2 separate regions of the Homo sapiens genome follow, and region 2 is linked to region 1. Evidence: fine-mapped QTL for protein levels in blood plasma. A gene starts in region 1. The other region holds a variant in brackets. All regions are shown on one strand. Distances are between the middles of the regions. Region 1 holds the start of ARHGAP25 (Rho GTPase activating protein 25). Region 2 overlaps ARHGAP25 (Rho GTPase activating protein 25).

Evidence for each region. PIP is the chance, under the fine-mapping model, that this variant and not a neighbour inherited with it causes the effect. Protein levels are from antibody-based Olink assays in UK Biobank. Linkage for the fine-mapping came from a reference panel and not from the study's own genotypes, which makes the PIPs less certain.
Region 2: its variant is fine-mapped to the plasma level of the ARHGAP25 protein (UK Biobank, PIP above 0.99).

Annotation. Positions count from the first base shown.
Region 1 is chr2:68,728,061-68,740,258 of GRCh38, reverse strand. It overlaps ARHGAP25 (Rho GTPase activating protein 25), which reads right to left and starts at 5,448. Exons shown (of 11, transcript NM_001007231.3): 1 at 4,999-5,448. The coding sequence starts at 5,059. RefSeq lists an enhancer at 454-683.
Region 2 is chr2:68,761,750-68,773,947 of GRCh38, reverse strand. The region is part of intron 1 of ARHGAP25 (Rho GTPase activating protein 25); the gene reads right to left. LOC105374790 (a long non-coding RNA gene) reads left to right here and starts at 11,278. Exons shown (of 3, transcript XR_940225.3): 1 at 11,278-11,342. RefSeq lists an enhancer at 2,468-2,517. The variant T/C (reference allele first, on the strand shown) is at 4,412.

The DNA.
Region 1 (12,198 bases):
ACATCTGCACCTAGATCTTAAAGAAGGTGAATGGCAGTGATGGGAACAGGGGTGGTGGGGCCAGAATTCCTCTTAGGCACCATCTGGGACTCCCATAGCTGTTCTCATCATCACAGCACCTGTCTCACCGCTTTGCAGTTGTTTCCTTGTCTCTGCCCCCACTGAACTGTATGCCCTACAGGACTGTCTTCATATTTCATATTTAGCTCAGCTTCCTGGCAGCCAAGACAAAGAGAACACAGTAAGTTGCACTCCTGTCTTACTAGAAATGAGGAAGCACTGCAGTCCCTCAAAGAAGACAAAGTTATATTCTAGGTCTGCCAGACCTATGGGTATCATTTTTTTTTTCTTTGCAAAGTGACTTTTGGTTTTTAAACAAGCTTTCAAAGAGAAAAAGGATGATGAGTAAAGCATAACACAAAAAATGTCAATTATTTTCTCTCTTTGTAACTTTTGTATCTCAGTTCCTGTCTGGGGACTCTACAAAATTTCCATGCCATCCTCTGTGACAGAATCCCCACAATCTGCCTGTGCCTCGCTGTGGCTCTCCGTCATGCTCTTCCGGTACTATTTGGTCTCAATTGCTGTGGCCACCAGTGGGACTTTGCTTCTGCTCTTCACTCCCTCCCATGTCTTGTATCTTAACACAAGTTCAGACCACTCGACTGGGGTGCACCTTCATGCCAGATTCTTTCCTCAAGCTGCCTTGTGTGTGATAGGACCATTTTCATCAACTTACTTCTCTCAATTGGTCCCAGCATCTTTCCAACACCCCCATAGTGGGCCTTACTCAAAAGGATCACATTCCAGCTGGTGGAGTCTCCACAGAGTTCTCCCATTGGATGCTACATGAAGATGCTTCATAACTGTGAGGTGAGAGACAGGGAGATGGCAGCACTACCATTAATGAAGTGACTTATAGTGATGTATACCCACGCCAGGGCCATTGGGCATCTTAACCCTGGCCTAGTTTCAGACACATAGGCAATAAGAACCATCAAGCTAGCCTCTGCCAATCCAAGTGCACAGTCTCAGACAAAGTACAGAATCTAAGCTGACCTCATCTGGCATGTACAGGGGGAATTTTGTGCATGAGTGGATATAAAACCAGGTCCTGTTTTCCCATCACCACTTAGGTTGGTCCCCACTCTGCTGCTGCTGCAGAAGGCCCAGAGGTGACATCAGTCCTTTTTCCTCAAATGGCCAGAAGGCTGTTGGCCTGGGCAACAGGAAGCATGCACTTCGTGGAGAGAATTTAATTTATGCCTAAATGTTAAGTCAACAGCAACATTACGGACAGACATTTTTACTTAAATAACCAATGGCAATGTAACCTCTGCATAAAAATAGAGTGGGCCCTGGAAGGAACAGCTCCCTTGTGTAGCTGTTCACTGTCTACAGAAGGCCATGTTCATATTCTTTTTTTTTTTTTTTTCTTGAGACAGAGTCTTGCTCTGTCGCCCAAGCTGGAGTGCAGTGGCATGATCGTGGCTCACTACAACCTCCGCCTCCCGGATTCAAGCAATTATCCTGCCTCAGCCTCCCAAGTAGCTGGGATTACAGGTGCCCGCCACCATGCCCAGCTAATTTTTTGTATTTTTAGCAGTGACTCTACTTGCATGTGTGGGGACCTTTATCTATCGGGGACCTTTATCTATCAGGGACCGGAGGCTACTCATGGAAAGCAAATACTTTGGGCACAGCAAACAGACCACATTCAGTCCATAACCCAGGCTGGTCTGGTTAGCATATAGTAAGTTTGGTAATGAATTGTAAAGAAAGCACTCACCACTTTCTGATGTTCAGAAAGCTGAACATCAAACAAACACAAATCAGTTCACCATGGGCTATATAGTTTCAGGATTCTCCTGAAACTGGGGAACCAGCATTTCAGTGTTCAAATAAGGTACAAAATGTGCTCAAGTAGACTGGCCTGGTCATTGGGAAGCCATGTAACTCTTTCAAGAAAGCCCTGTAACCTGGGGCTGGAGGTCCAGAAAGTCTGGACCTGTCCTCCAGTGATGACAATTCAGTTAAAAAGGCAAAATATTTGAGTAACTGCGTGAAGGCAGTGAAAGGCTGTCATGATTCTAAAATTGAAAATGATAAAGGATCACAGGAAGAAGTGTGTGCTCTTGGCTCCACCTCAAGTCAAGACTGTTTGTTCTGCATTTTCCTTTTTCTTCCAACCCCTATTCCTGCCAGGATCAATAGGTCAGATTCAGGAAGTTCTGTGACTTTTCTTCATCACTGCATGAAAATCTGTCAGACTCATGGTAGTGGACTCAGGTGAGTCTGCCATCCAGCAAGACCCTCTTCAGCTCTGAGATGGAAGTACAGTGGAGAGTCCCTCCCCTCGCTCTCAGAGACTTTCACTTTCACTCCAGCTCACAAGATTCTGGGGAAACTGGAAGCATAGCTCATCAAAAAAAGCTAGGGCCCCTTTCCTGGGTCACATTCTGGGTCAGTGTCTTGCTATTTCACCAAGGGCCCATTCTAGTGTCCTTCCTAAGCTATGGCCTGGCTCCCTGAGGACAGATCTCAATAAAAGCCTCCAAAAAATTGAGCTACAGAGTGAATCATGAGTTAATATTTGGGTTCTAGTCCCAAATGACCTTATATTCCACCCTTTTGGTGATCATCTACTCCAGGAGTTCTCAATTAGAGAAGATATTACCCTCACCCCCATCCCCAAGGAACACTTGGCTATATGTAAAGACAGTTTTATTTGTCACAACTGGTAGTGGTAGGGGGGTGTTACCATCACCTAGAAGGTAGAGGCCAAGGATTCTGCTAAACATCCTATAATTCACAGGACAGGCCCCACAACAAAAAACTATCCAACCCCAAATGTCAATGGTATCTAGGTTGAGAAAACGTTAAAACCACAGATTGTCAGCTTTCCTGACATAACTCCCAGTTCCACAGGTCTTCCCAATAGAGGTAAGTTTCTTTGATATATTGGTAAGCCAGTTCCTACAGTTACACCTGGACACAGGATGCTGGAGAGGGGACTGGAAGTCCTGTGACTGAGTCAAGGGCTCTCCCCCATCAGAGGACTCAGATTATGATCTGAATTCTAGTTCATGTGACACTTATAAATGCATCCTACTGTAGTCCAGTCCTTCAGGGTGACAAACTTATAGATAGCATGGATAATGACAAGGGCTCCTCTGTATTTCATTATGTCCTTATTATTATTTTTTCATTAAGTAATACTAAATAACATCATCTGCTTGTTTTTGTTGGCTGAAGCATTCATTCAGCCAACAAATATTTATTGTGTGCCCAGTTAAGAACAAGCACTGTGCCCTATACTAAATGGGTGAAAACTGTCTGCTGGGGCTAGTGAACATAGACCACAGTACCTACAGCAGGAATTCTTCCTCAGGTGAGGATGAAAGTGGGGGGTGCTTGTCAAAATGCAGGATCCTGGGCCTTCCTCCAGAGATTCTGATTTTGTAAGGATGGTGCCCAGAAATCTGCATTTTTAGCCAGCACTTGATGTGAGTCTGATATAGGTTATCTATGGGACCATGCTTTAAGAAACATTGGTAAAAATCATGAAATTCACTCAATCAAATCCCAGACCTGAGTATATGCAGTCTTGAGCTCTAGTGTGGTAATTTCCTATATCTGTGAAAAAAATCATTTAACTATTAATTGTCTCAACTTTCTTGTTTTTTAAACCAAAGGAGAGTAAGACCCTAATAACCTGTGTTCAAACATAGGTGGAGAGAAGGCAGAATGACCTTATTTATGTAGAAGCAGGACACTTTCAAAGGAACAGAACCATATAATTTGTATGACATAGATTGAGCATTAGCCAAGTACATTTGTATCAATGATAGTTAGGAGGAAAATCTCTTGCTTTTGTAAGAGGTATGAACATTACCTTTTCTCTGAACTGACCTCAGCATACAATCATTCACAGCTTGATTAGGGAACGCTAATCTCCCCTAGTTATCAAGATAAATGGCTTCTCTGATTACTCTGTTTTCTTTCAAACCCTTTCTCAGACCTACATCATTAATGCTCCGCTTGTGACTTTTCAATGGAGCACTTATTTTAGTAGCACACTTAACCCCATTAGAGGTTCAAATCTAAACCTTTTTCCAAGCAAAATTCCTCCAAGCTGTTAGAAACACCTTAATACTTATCTATATCTAATATCAAGGAAGTTATCTCATGTATGGGTGAGATACATAAATGTAGGCAATAGTTTTCAGCCCGATTGCTCTGATGTGAATTACTGTGACCAATTTAGCAATAGAAGAAATCTATGTAAAGAACTTCATAACGAATATATAGATTAAACTTAATGTATCACTATCATCATTAGAAGGACAGGGTATGGATTAAAGGCCAGACTATCTCAGAAAATATGCCAGTCTCCCTTAAAATAATAAAAAATACATCTCTTTTCCAACTCATCTAAGAATTCCCTCCCATTCTGTTCCTTTAATTATATTTTTATTAAGTAAGGTCTTTATTATACTTTAGTACGTTTTTATGTTCCTGTCTTGTTTTTGTTGTCTACCTTTTGCTACTACCTTTTAATACACCTTGACTCCTGGGCTCACAAAACAGAACACCCATTGAATTTACTTACAGATTGAGCACTTCAAAAGACTCTAGTCTTTGTGCTCCTGTTCAGAACCATTCAAAATATGGATGAGTTTCCAAACAGGAAGGAAATGGAATATGCTAAAAACTCACAGTTTTGTGTGTAGTCTGTAGCCTTAAATCATCCGAAGTACCCCAGATCCTGCACACCAAGGAGTGCCATCCCACTGTTTTGTCCAAATGAAAGAGAACCCCCTCCCAGCATTTTAGAACTTGGACCTGGCATGCCAACTTAAATGCAAATGGTCCCTCAAACTCAGATTTGCTGCGAGATCCATTTTTAAGTAGACTATGCTCCCTGCAGACCAACATGCAAATGGTGCTCGAGTATACGTAAGAATCACAGAGGCAACGAAAAGACACCAACCATACCTATTTTCGCAGCCTCCACTTTCAGGTTGAAATCCCAGTTCCTTGGCAATTTTAGGGACATTTTGCTTCCAGTTTAAGTGAGTAGTTAGTGAAGCGGTGAGTCTGTCACAGTTTGCGCCCTTCTTGTCTTTTCACTCTTTCCCTCTGTTTTTGTGTCTGTTTTTGTTCCTCCTTATGATTGCTTCACAAGCAATCTTAGGCTTGAGGCTGATTTGCCAACGTGTCTCCTCCTTTCTCTTAGATGAAAGGTCCATCCATCTGTCACTGGAGGATGGCACCCAAACTCCCCCAGCCTCCACCCTCAGTCCCACAGGGGCTAGCACCCTGCTTTTCTTGCTTTCAGTTTTACCAGAAATATCCCAGTTGACACTTCCCTCTGCGTCATGGGAAGCAAAGCTCCTTTTCGAAAGAATCTCAGGCCTTACTGAGTTGAGGTCGTGATAAACAACTGCTGCCTCTTGGTTTTGTGTGTGTGTGTGTGTGTTTCTTTTTTAACTGTCTGCTTCCTTGCATTTGAGGAAGTGGGTGGCTGTTCAGTGAAGATGATACATTATGAGCACTCTTTCTTGAGAAAATGGTTTTTGGAAATGCTTGAAAAACCAGAATGGTTGCTTCTGTTATAAAAGATTACAGTTTTAATTAGAAGAAAATGTCGAAACTCCCATCATCTACTTCAACTCTAAGCTCTCCTCTTCCTCACCTAACGGATCAAGCATCCAAAAATGGTCAGAAAAACAACAAGCATTCCCCCAAAGTTATCTTCTTTTAAATTCTTCCTGCTGTAAGGACCATGTCGCAAGCTCTCCAGGTGCTCAGGATAAAGTTTGCAAGTGATCTCAGCCTGATGTAGGGAGGGTTTTGATGTATTTGGCTTAATGAAGCAACTTAAGCTAGGTCGACCCACTCACATATCCTAAGGGTTCTTTGGCATTGTACACAGGGTGTGGGCTTTAGAATCAGGGTGTGTGGGCTGTATACATGGTGTGGGCTTCCATTTGCTAGCTCTTCAACTTTTGAACAAGCAACTGAATCTTTCCAGACCTTAATGTCCTCATCAGTAAAATGGGGTTGATAATAACCACAACTCAAAGGGTTTTTGCAGAGGAATCTAGTGCAGAGCTTGACACAGAGTGGTTGCACCACACACATTAATTCAACCTTTATTCTATTCTATTTAGTTCAGTTCTGTGACAAGCTTTCATGTTTAACTGGGTCAGCCTAACCTAGTGCTTAAGCATTTGGGCCCTGGAAACAGATCACTGGTAGTCAAATCCTGGCTTTCCTGCTGTGGGACTATGGACAAGTTTCTTGACCACTTTGTGCTTCAATTCTTATCTGTAGATGGGGCAAATAATAGGGCTTACTTCATAGGCTGTTGTGAGGCTTTAGTAGAAAAGCCAGTACAAAGTGCTCAGAACAGTCACTGCTAGCCAGCATCTAAGCTGCACGCCTTGCTCCATTCATTCTCCAACTCTCCTAGATGACTCTGTCATACTTTCTTCTTCACCTGCCACTTGCTTACTCTTACTGACGACCTGGGTTCCCGTTTCATTGAGAAAATCAATGTAACTGAAAGAGAATGTCCACAAGCTTCCCTCACTCTATCTGCTCACCTACCTGCATGCAAGCTGTATCCCTGACCTTATTCTTGGTACAATGGGTGAACTGGCTGTTAACACTCTCCCATCCCTATTGCATCATCAATTTCTTCTCTCTCTTTGATCCTTCCTGTCAGCGTTCAAACTTACTATTTTTTATCCCATAAAAAATCTCTCTGGATGCCACCACCCCCTTGGGCTAGAGTCCCATTTCTCTCCTTCATTTCTGAACCAAGCTTTAGTAAGAATTGTCTAACTTGCAAATATCTCTCCTCTTATTCTCTCCCGAATCCCTTGGTTGATGTTTTTGCCCCTATGACTCCACAAAATATATTCTCATCAAGGATACCTACGACTTCCCTGTCACTAAACTCACAGGTCAGGGCTTCATCTTCATCTCACGGGCCCATCAGCAGTGTCGGACACATTTGATAGCTCTCTCCAACTCTGAGCCCTCTGTCCATGGGGCTCCCACGGCCCATGGTTGGCCTGGCTGTCTGCCTGCCTTTCTGGCTTTTCCGTGTCTGTTTTCTTGCTGATTCCTTCTCATCTCTCTGACCTCTAAATATTGAAGGAAACCAAGACTCGACTGGACTCTTTTTCCATCCACACTCACACCTTGGTGAGCTCATCTGTCTCAAGGCTTTAAATGTCACATATTTGCAGATGATTCCAATGTGTATTTCCAGCCCAGACCCCCTGAACTCCAAATCACATGGATCTCTGCTTAGATCTATAGTAGCCATCTCAAACTAAATGTATCCAAACTGTATATCCAGAGAACGAGGCTGAAGGAACAGTGGTGACCTGGTGTATACTCCTGTCTTCAGGAATGAAAGGAGCACAAGAGAGAAGAACCTTGCAAGCGCATTTAACGCCTCTGCGCACACCCTGTCTGCTCACATTCCATTGGCCAACACAGGTCACATGGCCAAGCTCAAAGTCAGTGAGGCCGGAAGTACACCCAGTCCTCAGCAGCAGTGGGGAGGGAGAAGGGCCGGAGGGGTGGAAGAAGGGCCGGAGTGTTTGCTGATCAAGACTCCAATCCACCACACTCACCCAGTCTACCCAGCTACCCTCCAGCCTCCCCAGGGAGCTGGATTCCGCTGAACTTGACTCAGCTACTTGGAGACATTGCACTACTGCCTGCCTGACCCAAACACCACTGCTCTTTTTCGTATCCCAACTTAATTAAGCGGGTGTGAGAGAGGTAGCTGTCTGGCCCGGCCCAGCAGCATCTCCACGGGGGAATTCGACACCATCTAAAATTTCAGTCCTGGGACCTTTAAACTGAGGAATGTTGAAAATATTTTGAAGGTGTCATTAAGAAACACGCAGGGAACTTCCTTTACTTTTCAGGGTAGGTTCCTGTCAGTCTTGGAAAAACTCGTGACCCATGGGGGAAGTTAGTTGTGCAGATGCGGAAAGGCAATCAGATGGAAAGCACACTCCCCACAAGGGCCCAACACAGCAGCCTTCCCCCACCACAGAGCTCTCTCTCGGTCAGTCAACTGGGTACTGCGCTCCCTCTCTCTGATCTTCATAAAATGAAGAGCCAAATGCCTTGCCTGGTCCCAAAGTTTGAATTAGCATCTGCAGTAGCGCAAGCAAACATTGTTCCATCTGTTGGCTTGTTGAATGATAAGCGGATTTATTAAGGACCAAATTTTTGCTGGACATTGGAAGAACGTTCGTGAACAAGCAGACGTGTTTTCTGCTTCCCCACCTCACCGCCCTGACACCGGCTGTTGTCTCTTACAGTCTGTTGGGGGAGAAGAACAATTAAGTGAACGATTAAATACAGTGTGAGAGAGCTATGTTGGGGAAAGTGTAGGGAGCTAGGGGGGGTGTATATGCGAGGGGCCTAACTGGACTTGGGGAGTGAAGGAAGGGTTCCTGGAAGAAGTGTCTTTTAAAGTAAGGCTTGACAAATGAGTTAGGGAGGCAAGGGGGTTGGAAAAAGGATTCCAGACAAAACCAACAATATGAATGAGGCACGGAGAGAAGAAAGTTCTTCAGGTCGCTCCTAAGAAGGATGAAAGGGGTGGGGCTGAGGAGAAACGAAGCTGGAGAGATAGTCAGGGCTGAGCAGGGCTGGATCACACAGGGCAGGTAAACCTTGACAAAGAGTTCTGACTGTATCCTGGGGAAAACGGAGGTCACTAGGGAGTTTTCAACAGGATAGGGGTGAGGAGGCTGTGGCAGATATCTAAGAGAGAGGAAGAGTGAGGGAGAGAGGTCGGCAGCATGGGCATGGAAAGAAGGGAAAACAACACAGGAGTCATGTGAGTGACAGAATTGATAGCCCCAGGAGAATTATTACAGCAGAAAAAAGAGGCACCCAAGATCCCAGCTCGTCACTGGAAGGGTGTAGTTCCAATCACAGAGATGGGGCACGCACAAAAACAGTGAGGATTGGTAATGAGGAACAAGGAGAAAACGGTGGGCTTAGTTTGGGGCATGTTGATTTAGGGACCCAAGGGGCACTTGAGTGCAGATCTTCTGCACTCAAGGCTCATGTGAGCCTAGAGCTCAAACAGACTCATTCATTCATTCACTCGTTTACTCCATAAACATTTGTACAGGCCTGCGTTGGATGCTGATTAAACAAGAAGGATGATTAAGAACCCAGCCTAATCCTCCAATGAGTCATGAGAGAGAAGTGTAAACTTGCCGTGCAAGATACAAAAATAGTGCATGCACAGGGTAAAGTGGGAGCAGGAAATGGTTCCCTCTGCTTGGGTGGCATCCCAGGAAAGGCGACCCATGAGACAATAGTCAGGAAGCCAGGTGGGGGAGTGAGAGGAGAACGCTCCAGGCAAATGAAATGGCAGATCGCTGTGAAAACACAAATACGGCCCCCATTTAGGGAAGTATCAGAAATGATGTATGGCCCCCAAAGATGCCCCATACCCACTAGTTGAAGTTGCAGGAGCTGCTGGGGCCAGGGTCTGATGCACTTGCTGAAGGGTTGGACTCTAGCCTGAGGAGAACTTTTTTTTTTTTTTTTTCTGAGACAGGGTCTCACTCTGTCAACCAGGCTGGAGTGCAGTGACACAATCATGGCTCACTGCAGCCTCAACCTCCTGGGCTTAAGCAATCCTCACGCCTTGGCCTATGGAGCAGGTGGGACTGCAAGCTTTCACTACCATGCCCGGCTAATTTTTTAAAAACTCGTTCTGTAGAGATGGGGGTCTCACTATGTTGCCCAGGCTGGTCTCAAGCTCCTGGGTTCAAGTGATCCTTCTGCCTTGGCCTCCAAAGTGCTGAGATTACAGACATAAGCCACTGTGTCCAGCCTGGAGAACTCTTAAAACATCTTTCGTTATTATTTTTACCATTACAGAAGTCCGTGCATAATCACCATACAAGTGTTTTAAAAGCAAAAAGAAAATAAAAATCATTGTTACCACTTAATGTGTAATAAGAACTTTTCCCATTCTTGGTTTCCTACTTCTCCCTCACCTTCTACTCATGTGTACATGTAATATATGTATGTATGCATGTATTGTAAATTTTTTAAATGGTGCATATGCTGTCTTATAAACCGTTATCTTCCTTTAACAAAAAAAAGTCATGAAAAAGTATCTGTCATTAAGCATTTTTCCAAAACATCATCAGTGGCCTCATGATTTTTAATTATATGATGAGAGCAAAATTAATTTAACAAATCCCTGTGTCATTGAGCATTGGAGATATGCATAAATTTTCATAATATTCTTATAGCTAAATATCTGGATAAATCTAGTCCTTTTCCCCCCTCAGGGGGAATTCTTAGAGATAGAAATGCTGGGAAAGTGAATAAGAATATACTTATACTAAGGTTTGCTATGTGCTCTCAAATTGCTAAATCACTGAATTGTACACTTTGATGGGTGAATTGCATGGTATGTGAATTATGTATCAATAAAGCTCATAAAAAAACAAGCAGTCAGGTGAAGAACAAACATGAAAAAGTTCTACGGTTTATGTTTCCATTAACAATATATGTAGGGCCCAGTTCCCTCAGAGCCTCACTAACAGTTGGCATTATCATTGCTTTTATTATAAATCATTTTCAGTTGAATAAGCAAATACTTTTTTTATTAAATAGTGGAACTAAAGTTATTTTTTAATGTGTTTATTGGGCATTTGTAAGGGTTGGATGTGTCTAGGTGTCGATGTGTCTGAGTGATTTTGCAAGGAATCAGTGCAGGGGGAGTTTCTTATATCTTTATTTCTGATTTGCAGCCCACTGGCTCTAGGATCTTCTTCAGGAGCATCAGTTATCTGCATGTTAGCTCTCCACTCTGTCACTTCCTTGTCTTTCATTTTGTCATCTCTGTTACTGTTATCTGCATTTGAAGACAGTTTCTCATGTTTGTTCTTCACCTGACTGCTTGTTTTTTATGAGCTGTATTGATACATAATTCACATACCATGCAATTCACCCATCAAAGTGTACAATTCAGTGATCTAGTACATTCAGAGTTGTGCAACCATTGCCACAATCAACTGTAGAACACTTTCATCTTCCACAAAAGAAACTCCATACCCATTAGCAGACCCTCCTCATTTTCCCCAGCACTAGGCAACCACTTTATGTCTCTATAGATTTGTGTATGGACAAAGGTGTCTGTTCTGGACATTTCACATAATGAAGTCATATACTGTAATATGTGGTCTTTTGTGACCGGCTTCTTTCCCTTTGCATGTTTTGAAGTTTCATTCATATTGCAGCATGTATCAGAACTTTATTTCTTTTCATGGCCAAATAATATTCCATTGTGTGGATAGATCAAATTTTGTTTATCTGTTCATTTAGTGGATGGACATTTGGATTGTTTCCAGGTTTTGGCTATTATGAAAAATGATGCTATGAACATTTGTGCACAAGTTTTTTAAATTTTATTTATTTATTTATTTACTTATGTTTACTTATATTACTTATAAAGATTGGAGTCTCACTATGTTGCCCAGGCTGGTCTCAAACTTCTGGGCTCAAGTGATTCTCCTGCCTCAGCCTCTCAAAGTGCTGGAATTACAGGTGTGAGCCACCATGCCTGGCCTTGTGCACAAGTTTTATAAACTATTATCTTCCCCTGACAAAATGGCATTATCATTGCTTTTATTAAAAATTATTTTCAATTGAATAAGCAAGTTTTTTTTTTATTAAAAAATCATCTCTCTTGGGTATGGGCATAGCAGTGGAATTTCTGGGTTATATGGTGACTTTATGTTTAAATTTTTGAGGAACCACCAAAATGTTTTACAAAGTAGCTGCACCATTTTACATTTCCACCAGAAATGTATGAGGGTTTCATTTTTTTCCACGTATTCCCCAACACTTGTTATCATCAGTCTTTTTTTATTTTAGCCATTCTAGTGGATGGTTAGGATGAAATGTTATTATCTCATTGGGGTTTTGATTTGCATTTCCCTGATGACTAATGATGTTAAGCATCTTTTCATTTGCTTATTGGCTGGTTTGGTTTTCCAAAGCAGAATTCCTGCTTCGTGAAACATCCGATGATGTAGTCCCACTGAACCTGCATTTCCTCAAGACCACATCCAGCTAAAACTCAAGCCTTCAACTTTGACTGAAACTTTCCTACTTTTGCCT
Region 2 (12,198 bases), 34 kb before region 1:
TCACTTGCTAAATTAGGATAATAATACTTCCTTGTTTATGGAATTGTTGTAGAGATTAAACAAACATACGCAAACCACTTAGCACAGTCCCTGGTCAAAGGTAAGTATATGTTACTCTTGCTGTTTTTATCAACAGGTGACTTTACTTCCTACTAAAAGGATGGGAGTCATCACTGAGAGCTTCTTCAACTTCCCTCTTCACTTCAAAATGTCATTCCATCATCAAGCTTCCTCTCTTTCTTCTTTCCTATCTTTAATGCATTAAATTGCCAACATCTCCTCATTGATTTTGAAAAATATATTCAGGGGGTATACGTGCTGGTTTGTTACATGAGTCCATCGCCTAATGGTGGGGATTGGGTTTCTAGTGTATCCATCACCCAAATATTGAACATTGTAACCAACAGGTAATTTTTCAATCCTCACCTTCCTCCTGCCTTCCCCACTTTTGGAGTCCTCAGTGCCTATTATTCCCATATTTATGTCCACGTATACCTATTGTTTAGCTCCCACTTATAAATAAGAACATGGGATATTTGATTTTCTGTTTCTGAGTTAGTTAGGATAAATAGCCTCCAGCTCCATCCATGTTGCTGCAAAGGACAGAATTTCATTCTTTCTGATTCTCTTATTTCTATCTCCTTCTACGCCTGTGATTCTCAATCTTTATTTATAATCATGGCATACTTTCAAACACCAGAGTTTTATATGGCATTACAGAGTCTTTCTGTAGCTATCTCCAATTGTATCTGGAGTTATCACCCTATTTCCACATTTCATCCTTCGGTCCAATATTGCTGTCTGAAGAGGACTCCACTGTAACTGGGCTCCCTTGACCCTCACAAGGGGTCTGAGTTCCCATAATATGCCCTTATACCTGGTTCCATCTGGCAGTCACTTCTTACCTCCCACCAGGGACCTGGTGAGGTCATACTAGGTTGTATCCCACGTTGCAAGACATATTTGATTCAGCTTCCCATTGGACAGACATCATCACAAGAGTGCTTATGCTCAGATGTAGAAAAGATAATTTGATATTTTGATGACAATTTGGTAGCTTGCTTACAAAGGATTTGCTTTATATCAGTGTGTCTTAGCATCCCAGTTAAGAACTTTATCTGAGATCTTGCTCCTCAGTTACTTGCTATCTTCAAGGCCTTCTATCTGTAATTAAAAAGCAGCCAGTGTGGGCTGATCACTTGCTCTAAGGCTGTGGAAATGATCCCCAAAGAACTACAGAAAGATTTTGGCAGAATACAATGGGGAGGAGGGAATTTGAAGGACTGTATACAGTTCTGTATCTCTCTAAGTCAGAGACTATACCTTGCAAGGACTCTTATCTGTCCTAGAAAGAGGGCAGAGAGTAGGCAAAAATGAAAAAGATAGTTTACACACAAAACTTTTGGAGAAAATCGAAGAGTGAGGCATTCCAGCAGATGCAGAGGCATTCTCCCCCACTTCAGTAGCCTCAGTGAAGTCTATCCCGGTGTGGCTTTTGTGACCATCCAACTGTAGCAACATCAGACATGATAGGGAGGACCCCCTTCTAGCAGTGGCATATGAGGAACCTTTACTTGGCTTCTGAGGTGATGCCATCAAATGGAGCCAACTCAGGAGTGAGGGGAAGTGCCACATGGTGGCTAGAAGGACTCAGGCCCCTTGGGCCACCCCCAGAGGCCCACAGACATCATTAGGACCACAGTGGGGGTTAGGGGAAACTGAAGGTCTCCAACAGCATTGAAGAAGTGGGAAGCGGTTAGCAGAAGAGAAAAAGATACTACAGATTGGAAAGAATTCACTCAGCATAGAAGAAATTAGTTGCTGGTATTTTGTTCACAGTTCTGTGAAATTTTTCATGCTTTGTTGTGGCAAAAACAACTATAAGAAAAACAAACAAACAAAAAACCCTCCTAGGAGCACGTGTGCGTTGCAGAATGACCTGGCAAAGGCAGGAGTAAGTGCGAGGATCTTATGTTCCCAGACCTGGCCAAGGGGACCTTTGATGCCCTTGTAGCAGAAAGGCAACCAGCTTGTCTGCTTACATATGAACAAGGCTCTGCCTGGCCATGTTTTATATCCATAAAGGATACCACTCACTCTACATCCAACCAGTGTTTCTTTAGTGCCTGTTAACATCCCACCATAGTTTGTGTAACTATGAGCACTGGGCCACCTGTTATAAGTTAGAGAGTGGGGATAGCTCAGTACAAAGTTCCACACTGCTGGAATTAGGCCCAAACCCTGAGGGTAGGGAGACAGCTGGGGTCTCAGATGAGCTGGGGATTAAGCAGGGGCACTTTCCATCCCAAGTGCAGAGCCATCTCCCTCCATAGCCCACAGTGTTGCTCACCAGCCAGGCCTAGCATGAGATCATTAAAATAGCAGAGAAGAAAGTCTGGGGGCCTTGAGTTTGTCATGGTTTTGACCAACTTTCCTTGTTAGGTTCTTTGAACAGTCTCTCTTCTTTGTGGGTGGGACTTGTTCCGGATAAAGTAAACAAAGAGATCTGTTACTATTAATGGAGCTGTTTCTCATAATGAAAATAATAACCATGATAAGCTTCACTTGTGAGCCAGTCATTGTACCCTGAGTGCACATTCCCAGCCCTTCAGGAAGCAGGTCTGAACCAGGCGGAGGGTTGGAGAGGGGGCTGCAGGCAGACCAGGGCGGGGAAAGGTGGGAAGGCAGTTGCTCAGTGTTTACAGAACACCTTGGGGCAAGTGAGAAATGAGGGCCTCAATAAGGTTAGAAACCTCACATTATTCTAGTAGAGAGAGGATGAGCAAGCCCCTAGCACTGCATTGTCTAGTACAGTAGCCACTAACCATAAGTGGCTGTGTACATTTAAATGAATTAAATAGGTTACATTAAGTTACAATTGAGTTCCTCCGTCATACTAGCCATGTTTTAAGTACTCAGTAAGCCTGTGTGTTTCGTGGCTACAGTACTGGACAACAGATAGAGAACATTTCCACTATCACAGAAAGTTCTGCTGGTCAGCACTTCCCAGAACCTGAGTGCTATCATTACAAAGCGTGGGGTGGAAATGGGCCATAAAAGTGAGGCAGCATTTTATCAAATAGAGAAATCAAGCTGGAGGGCCCAGAGAAGAAGATGCTTTAGATGACAGAGTGAGGCATTCAACTTGATTAGAGAGGTAGTAGGGAGCTATTTCATATTCCTGAGCAAGGGAGGCCCATGATAAAATATAGTTGTATGACTGGACTGTTGGTGCTGAATTTTAGTCTGCAGGTGTGAGAGAGTACTGGAAAGGAAAGAAGAGAAATAGAAGAAGTGCCACATGCCTAGGGATGTTGTTTCTGCTGTAGAAGTTAGCTGCTTTTTGCCCCAAGATGGGGCAAAGGAAAATTAAAGAAGGAAGTACGAACAGAGAAGTCAGCTGAGAAACGTTATCACTTCCTTTCTTCATCTTCTGCCGCTGAACCCTCAAAATAATCTGCTCTCAATTCTGACTCAGTCTAGATTCCACTTTGGATGGCTGTAAATGTGTGGGTGAGGTGTGAATAGTTCTTTCAGAGCTGGGGAAACAATTTCAGGTATTTTCCCAGTATGTTGATATGAGCTGTGCATTAGTTTGGGAACCATGTTTAAATGGATTTGAAAAGGGAGTAGAATTTGCATGGCTTCCCCCAGCCCTCCTTTCTGAGCTGTAGACCCATCCATCCAGCTTCCTAACACACCTCCATGAGAATGTCAAGCTCATCATGCTTACCACCTCATCAAACTTACCACCTTTCCCCTTCTCACCTCTACCATTCCTCTGGCTAACACTGACACACATGCCCAAACCTGCTTTACCTCCGCTGGTCTCTCTGATGTACTTGAGTGACATTCTCCCAGCCAACCAATCAACACAGAAGGCTGCCTGTTCCTTATATTCAGCACTGACAGCATTGCTTATGACGTGAGCCTTCTCAAACAGAATTCTGATCATGTTACCTTCCTGCCTAAAAGCCTCTGATGACCCCCAGCATCTCCCTCCTAAACGATGAAGTCTAAACTGCCATGGAGTTGGAGTCCTTTGCGGCTTTTTCTGCTGCATTTCCTGCTCTTTCTCCATGCCCATCCTGCTCTTTATCCAGGACAGTATGCTATTCTCTCTGCTGGAATGTCCTCCCTACCCACCCCCACCTACATCCAATTTGACCTCTTGGAAAACTCTTACTTATCCTTCAAGAATCCCTTCAGGCCCCACTTCCTGTGAGAAGCCTTCCTGGCCCTGCCAGACTTAGTTGCTCCCTGGCTCTGGACCCTTGTCAGTGGAGACACCTGTGTATCGTAGCCTTTGTCGCCTTGCTTGGTACTTTTTTCTTTTCCTGTCTTCCCTCTCCACTTGCACTCTAAGAAGACAGGGGTACTCCCTTGATGTTTGGCCTTGCTCATCCTTGTA[T/C]CGTGCACCTAACACAGTGCCTAACAGAGAGAAGGAAGGAGAAAGTAGCAGAAGTGCACAGGCTTCTACATACGCAGCCTTGGGTAAGCCGTATTCTATCTCTGAGGGCCAGTTTCCTCCTCTGTAAAGCTGTGATAATAACATGCATCTTATGGGGTGATAAATCCATAGGGATTAGTAAGGGTAAGTGGACAGGTCCCAGCCAGTGCCTGCTTCTTAAAACATAGAAATTAAATGAAAGCTATTATTATTAACATTATTATTATAGTATGGACTCAATTTTATTCTAAATGAGAGAAAAGAAAGAGAATATTACAGAGGGGAGGGATGAAAAGAGGGAGAGAGATGGTATAGAGGGAGATTGGCTGGACATTGCACAATATTCCAGGTGCAAAGCCAGAAGCCTGGATTAGGATGGAAGAGGAAACAATATGAGAGGCTAATACTGAGAGGACTCAGCCCCCTGCTGAACAAGGAGGAGCAGGAGACAAAGATTTTTGTGAGGTCTGGGGTTTGAGTGGCTCTGGTAAGGTAGCCTTCCCCATTCATTCATTCATTCATTCAAGATTGAGGACTTGACATGCACCAGAACAATTTTGGGTCCTGAGGATATGAGATCAGCCAGACACAGCCCTGATGGATCTGGGAGACCCATTCATGGAAGCAAGAAAGGAAATCAGAGAACAAGGCCAGTTTGAACAGGCAGGTGAGTCCAGTTCTGGACATGATAAAGTGTGAGGGTGGACTGAGAGCTTCAAGCTTCCCGAGAGTTTTGCTTTTGATAAGTAAGGCTTATGAATTAAGAAAGAGACTAGGGGGAGAAAAGAGGTGCAAGTGAAAGCCAGAAGATTTGAGTGACGTGAAAATCTCAGACCAGAAAAGTTATTTGCATAGACGTTCAGGAACCAAAGAAAAGATGGCATAGAGGAAACCAGCACAGAGGGAAGCATTTCTAACTTGAGGCTGTGGGGATAAACTGAGATGCAAGACAGAAAAGGGTGCTGTTTTCCTTGGGATTTTTAGTAAAGCTCCACACTTCCTAGAAAAGCATCTGGCAATTGAAGCATCTTGATAAATATTTGCTGAGTTAATAAAATAAATGTTTTAGAACGAAATGTGAGCCACCATGCAGGCATTTTGTATTTGCGAGAAATATTGGCCAATTTACCTATTGGCGGGATTTCTGGATATGTTCACTGCATCCACTTGAGCAGAGTGGACGATGGAAGATATAATCCCTGATCTAACAATAATGAATATCAAGTTACTTATGTATTGAGTACTTACCACGAGCCAGCCACAGTGCAAGCACTTTATAGAGCTGTGTCATTTAATGCTCATGCTCTTTATGTAAGTACCATACTGTCACCCTCATTTTTCAGACCAGGAACCAAAGCTCACAGAGGTGAAATGATCTGCTCCAGTTAACAACTAGAAATCTGATTTCAAAGCCCAATATCCATACCTAAGCCACAGCCCAGAAAGGAGCATGTATTCTTGTGGTGAAGAGAGGCATCCACATTGGAGATGGAATCCATGTCTAGTAATTCACAGGGTTAAAGAATCCAGAGTGAAGTGGACAGGAGAGACCATGCCACCTTTCACTGAGCTGGGAACAAAGCCACTACTCCTAACCTATCATGTGAAGCAGCTGCCTCAGCCCCACCCATTTTGCCTCTAGATTGTGCACAAACAATTTTGTGCTATTTCCGCCAGTGTATGCTCTGCAAGGCTCAGCAGGCCTCGAAAACACAGTGACAGAGAAATGGTACTGAAACCTCAAGCCCACCACTGAGGCTGTGCTGATACCCCAACAAGAAAACGGACATATTAGGTAATCCTGCCACGTCTTACCAGCTGCTACCCAAGCTCATGTGGAGAGACCTAGGGATTCTGAGCAAGGTCCCACGTGGCCGAGGCATGGGAGGGAGAGAGAGTGAGCTAAGCTACCGTGGGCCGGCAGTCAGGCCCACACCACAGCTGAGGAAGGAGCCGACTGGGGAGCTCTCTGAAACAGCAGACCTGGCATTGCTACCACCTGAAAATGATAAACAGATTCATACGTCCCTGCCCACACCCCGCACACATACACACACGCAACGCCCCTGCCACATTCACACATACATACATGCAGACCCCCCACCTATCCTGTTATCAGACTGCGGGATGATGGCCCTCAGTTTCCACCCAGAAGGAAATTAGGACATGTGACTTCAGAAACTTCAGGCTCGCTTTCTGTATCCCTTTTCTGTCTTCAAAGCAAACGCCACCCCCCCATTGAAAAGCACCCATCATTCTTTTGAGTTTCGTTTTTAACTTTAGTATGAAAAGCACTGCCCCTTCAAAAGGCATCTTTACTGTGAGACTGATGACAGCAAAGGAGCCTTCTCTCTGTACCCTGAAATTAAACCACACGGGTCTTCCCAGGGCACTCACCCTTGAGACAAATTTGTATAACCGAATTCATAGAAATATCTAAAAGTTGTTCCCTAAATGCCTGCCTCAATACTCCGGAATTGGGCAGATTTCATTTTCCCATGTTCTATGGATTCTAGAAATGCCCTTTATTGTTTGACAAGTGACTATGTCAACCTAAAGGAAAAGAATCTGCTTTGGAAAGGGGCTTGGCACCAATAACTATGTGTTCTGCAGGAAGAGGTAAAAAATGCTGTCTTGGTAGCAATATGAGACAGAGGGAGAGAAATTATCTGTGTGTGTGAGAGAGAGAAAAAGAGAGAGGGAGAGAGAATGACAGAGAGTGAGAACAAGAGAGAGGGAGAGAGAATGACAGAGAGTGAGAACAAGAGAGAGAGAGAGAGAGAAGGGGAGAGAGAGAGGAGTACTGGCTTTCTGTTACTTCTTTCTTATCAGCAGCTCTGGAAACCTGAGCCAGCAACAAATATTGCAAGGTTTTTTTGCACGCCAGCAAATTTGTTTCACCTAGGGTGCCTCTCCAGGGCCACCCCTCCAGTGTTCATGTTTTGTGGCTTTCGTGTTTCTTAGGAATTTAGAGTGCAGTTGCCTCTTGTGGGTCTGTGTGTCTCCATCAGTTGCAACACCTTACCCAGCCCTCTCCGCCTGTCTCTGCATAACAGGAAGCCACGTGTAATAACAAGAAGCTTGCGGAAGAACACTGCCCCAGAGCTGCCTCTTCCTCAGCACAAGGCAAAGTGGAGATTTGGCAATCAGAGGGCAAATTTTCTCTGTAGAAAATTCTTTGACAATGTAGCTGGTTAACTGCATATGCAAGCTACCTGCTTTCCCAGGCGTTAGTGTAAGGAAGAACAATTCTCATCAGGTAGGACTGCAGGATAATTAGTGCAGTAAGCTCTGCCCAACACCCTAGTGGTGTGTTACATTAGGAAGAGCAATCGAAGTACTGACCCCTCCATTGCCAAAGCTAGTCATTTATTTTAGGTAAGAGGTTTTGGTTCACTAGTCACTAGCATTCATAAATAAATAAGTGCATTAGGATGCTTGAAATATTTGTATTGCATAAGCATGGATGAATTATATGGCCTGAGTAATTCACAGGAAGGACCCTTCCAGGGCAATGCTCAAGTACTGGCAACTACCATCAAGCACTGGCCCTTGAGGAGGCTACAAGCCATTACAGCCTAACAGACGTCACTCCAGTCAGTTTCTGGGGCCTCTACAGGTCTTAGGGAACAGTGATTTTAAACTTTAACACTACTGAGAGTTAAAGTGACCAATGAATAATGCTAGCAGTGGGGTGGGCCCAGGAAACGAGTCATAATATGTTTCTCCTATTCTACAACCTGATAAAAAGATTTCATTAAAAACTGAGACAATTTGATCATGGATAAAGGATAGATGATACCAATGAATTATTGATTAGTTTTGTTAGGCGTGATCAGGACAATGTGGCTAGAAAATAAAATTTCCATATTTTTAAGGATGCATACTTAAGCATGGGGAAAATGTGTCTGGGATTTGTTTTAAAATATCTTAGCATAAAAGGGAATAAAAGAAAAAGAAAGGGATAGATAAAACAATGTGACGAAATATTCTGTTGAACTTCAGTAGTGGGTCTACATGGGGGTTCATTATATTTTCTCTGTTGTGTTTGGAATGTTGATATAATAAATGATCTTTTTAAATATTTTATTAGGCTTAAAAATAAATTCAATAGGCTTGTTGGGTTTTTTTTTTTTTACATGTCAACTATTGCTCTAAACTTCAACTTGTCTATTTTCCAAGGTCTGCATTTCAGACCTGTTACTCCTCAGAGCACAGCGGAATGACACTACACAGATGTTATACCACTTACGTACACATTCCCTCCCAGACAGATCCGCCTCCATATCCCTGCACTGTCACTTTATCAGCTGATGAATGGGAAGAACTGAGGGACTTACTGAGGCTGCCAGTATGGATAGTATTTCCTGTAAAGTCAGCTTTTACCCCAACACTTACTGGCAGAGAGAGAGAAAGGGCAGCAGAAACCGGAGGGAGCCCAAGGGTGGTCTGTGAGGGAACTCAGGAAGGAATGACCACCTAGAATTCTAGGTGACCTCATGGCAAGAGCTTCCATTTCCAAATTTCCATTAAAATGACAAAGGGACTAGCTCAATAATAACAAGGGGAGATCTAAAATGAAAGTAAAAGTAAAGAAGGATTCTATCTGCATGCCATTTGGGGGGAAGACGGATTTCTGCAAGATGTAGGATAGGCAAGGCTAAACTGAAGAAAGCTGTTGGTCTCACAACTCAATGCATATGGAACAGCCTGCCCCAGAGGGAGCGGAAAGGGCCCAAGAAAATCCTGCACTAACAACACCTAGAGAGGAACAGCAGCAGCATGGAGGCAGGGAACAGATGGAGACCTGAGAGCTCCTTCCAAGTGCGCACAGAGGTCTGGCTGGGGCATGTTATTTCCAGTTTACCCTGGGTGCCCAAAGTCAGGCCAGACAAAAAGTAACAGCTCTGTCCTGCTGGCTCCTCAACCAGGTCACGATACCAGTGAGAACAGAGGGTGCCTGTCCACCTAACCTGGAGCTACACAAGAAGAAAAACAAGAAGAAAATGAACTTTCCTTCAACAGAGAGGGTAGCTACCCTCCCTTAACCCCTTAACTGGATGCGTCTTAAAAAGTTACACATAAGCTTGCCATAGCACCCAGCAATTCCACTCCTGGGAATCTATTCAGGGGATGTGAAGGCACACGTCCATAACAGTTTTTGAATGTGAATGTTTCTAGCAGTATTATAGATGATGGTCAAAACTGAAAACAATCCAGAAGCCACAAACAGGTTACTGGATAAACAAAATGTGGGAAAGCCAAACAGCGCAATACTACTTGGCAACACCAAGGAGCAAAGGACTGATTCATGCCACACAAAGAACCTCAAAAACATTCAGCTAAGTGAAAGAACCTGAATGCAAAAGACAACAAATTATATGAGTCTGTGCATAAGAAATATCCAGAAAAGGCAATTCTGTAGAGACAGTGGTTGCCAGGACTGAGGGTGAGAGCAGGGATTGATTGCAAAACGGCTGGAGAGAACTTTTTGGGGTAATAAAAATGTCCTAAAACTGGACTATGGTAATCATCACACAACCCTATAAATTTACTAAAAATCATTGAATTGTATACTTACAATGAAGGAATTTTATGGCATATAAATTATACCTCAGTAAAGTTTTTAAAAGAAAGATTAGAAACTAAATAATATATATAACTGCCATACACACAAAAAACCCACCATGGAAACAGTGAAGAGTAGAACAGTTTCTGCAGAAAAAATGAGAATAATTTTCTACACTTTTTATGTGGTGAAACATGCCAGAAACTCTGCAGAGTTAGAGATTTTTGACTGTTTTGTCACTCAAATGTCTGGAATATTCCAGGAATGCAAGAATACTTCAATATTTAAAAAACTAGTAAATGGTTTAGCCCATCAATAATTTAAAAAGTCTTATGTTTTCAAAGATTATGAACTTGCTTTTGATAAATTCAACATTAGTTTATATTAAATGTTAGTTATAAAGAACAGAAGATCACATTCTTAGGTGTTAAAGTGTATCTCAAACCGAAAAAAGGGGAGGGAAGAATTGAAGGAACGCTCTGTATTGCTGAAAATGCAACTACAGAAAATTGGAAGAATTAAACATTTTTAGGATTCAGGCCAAATATTTGCTTGGTGTTTTAACTGTATATGGAAAAATGATGAAGTACAGCAGAGAATCTTCAAAGAAACAGAAAATGACACAGCAGAATACTTCTGATACTTCTACTGTGTCATATAATTGAGAGCTGTGAAGTTTATGAAAATTTTCACTGCTGTGACACTTTGCAATTTTGTTAAAGATTTTTTAGAGTTTGATAAAGAAAGCATTCTAAAATTCATGAAAGATGATCAAATACAAAAAAGCCAACATCATTGTCTTGGTTACAGCTAGTGACTTGTGAAAAAGTATCGAGATTTTACTTTTTCATAAAATTTTATTATTTATCAGCATTTCTATCAACTTTGGGCTACACTTCATGATGCTTGAGTAAGGCTTTGCAGAATGCAGTATTTTCCCTGTGATTCAGCCACTGACATCTGGTAGTTCTGTTTCCTCTTCAAAGCTGTCAAACATTATCAGCTGCCTGAAAAATGTGTTAGGGGGTTTCCCTTTTATCACCCAAGGTCCTCACAAAAATGTCAGGACTTATTTTGTATGTATCTGTGAGCAACTGTAGTGTTTCTGTCTGACCTGGACTTTCTTGGCCCACACACTAGCCTCTGCTTGACATTTCTTTTTGGCTGGCCACTCCTTCACAGTTCTCATGGAAGAACTAGAAGAACACCATTTTTGTTTCTTTTTTCTTTTTCTGTTTGTTTTTAGCCAGTAGTCACTGAAGGACCAACTAAGCTTTTGTGCAAAGGCTGAAGAAGCAGGAACCAGAGATGCACAAACAGGAGGTAAAAGAAGGAGAACCATGAGGGGGTGACTCAACAGGCTAACACCGGGACCCCAGGATGCGGTCCTAATTCCAAATCCCTCTGGCTTAGCACATCTAATAGCATACGAGAGCTTTTGAAGATGAAAAATGAGTTGTAATATTTGACTTGGGCTATTTTTCTCAAATTATAACTTGCGTGATTTATTTTTTCCCAATTATTTTTATTCCAGTAAAACACACATAAAATTTACTATCTTATTTTTGATTGTACAGTTCAGTAGTATTAAGTACATTCACATTATTGCACAACCATCACCATCCATTTTCAGAACTCTTTTCATCTTGAAAAACTGAAATTCTGTACCCATTACAGAGTTAACTTCCTTTTCCTTCTTTCCCTAGCCCTGGTAACCACCATTCTACTTTCTGTCTCTATGAATTTGTCTCCTCTAAGCACCTCACATAAGTGGAATTATACAGCATTTGTCTTTTTTGAAGCAGCTTATTTCACTTAGCATAATGTCCTCAAGATTCATCGGTGCTATAGCATATTGCAGAATGTCCTTCCTTTTTAAGGCTGAATACATTCTATTGAATGTATATACCACATTTTGTTTGTCAGTTCATTTGTCAATGGACACCTGGGTTGCCTCCATGTTTTAGTTATTACAAATGATGCTGCTATGAACGTGATGTACAAATATCTCTTCAAGACTCTGTTTTCAATTCTTTGAGTATATATTTAGATGCGGAATTGTGGGATCAGATAGTAATTCTATTTTTAATTTTTTGTGGAACTGCTATACTGTTTTCCATAGTAGCTGTAACATTTAACATTTCCACCAACAGTGCAAAAGGGTTTCAATATCTCCACA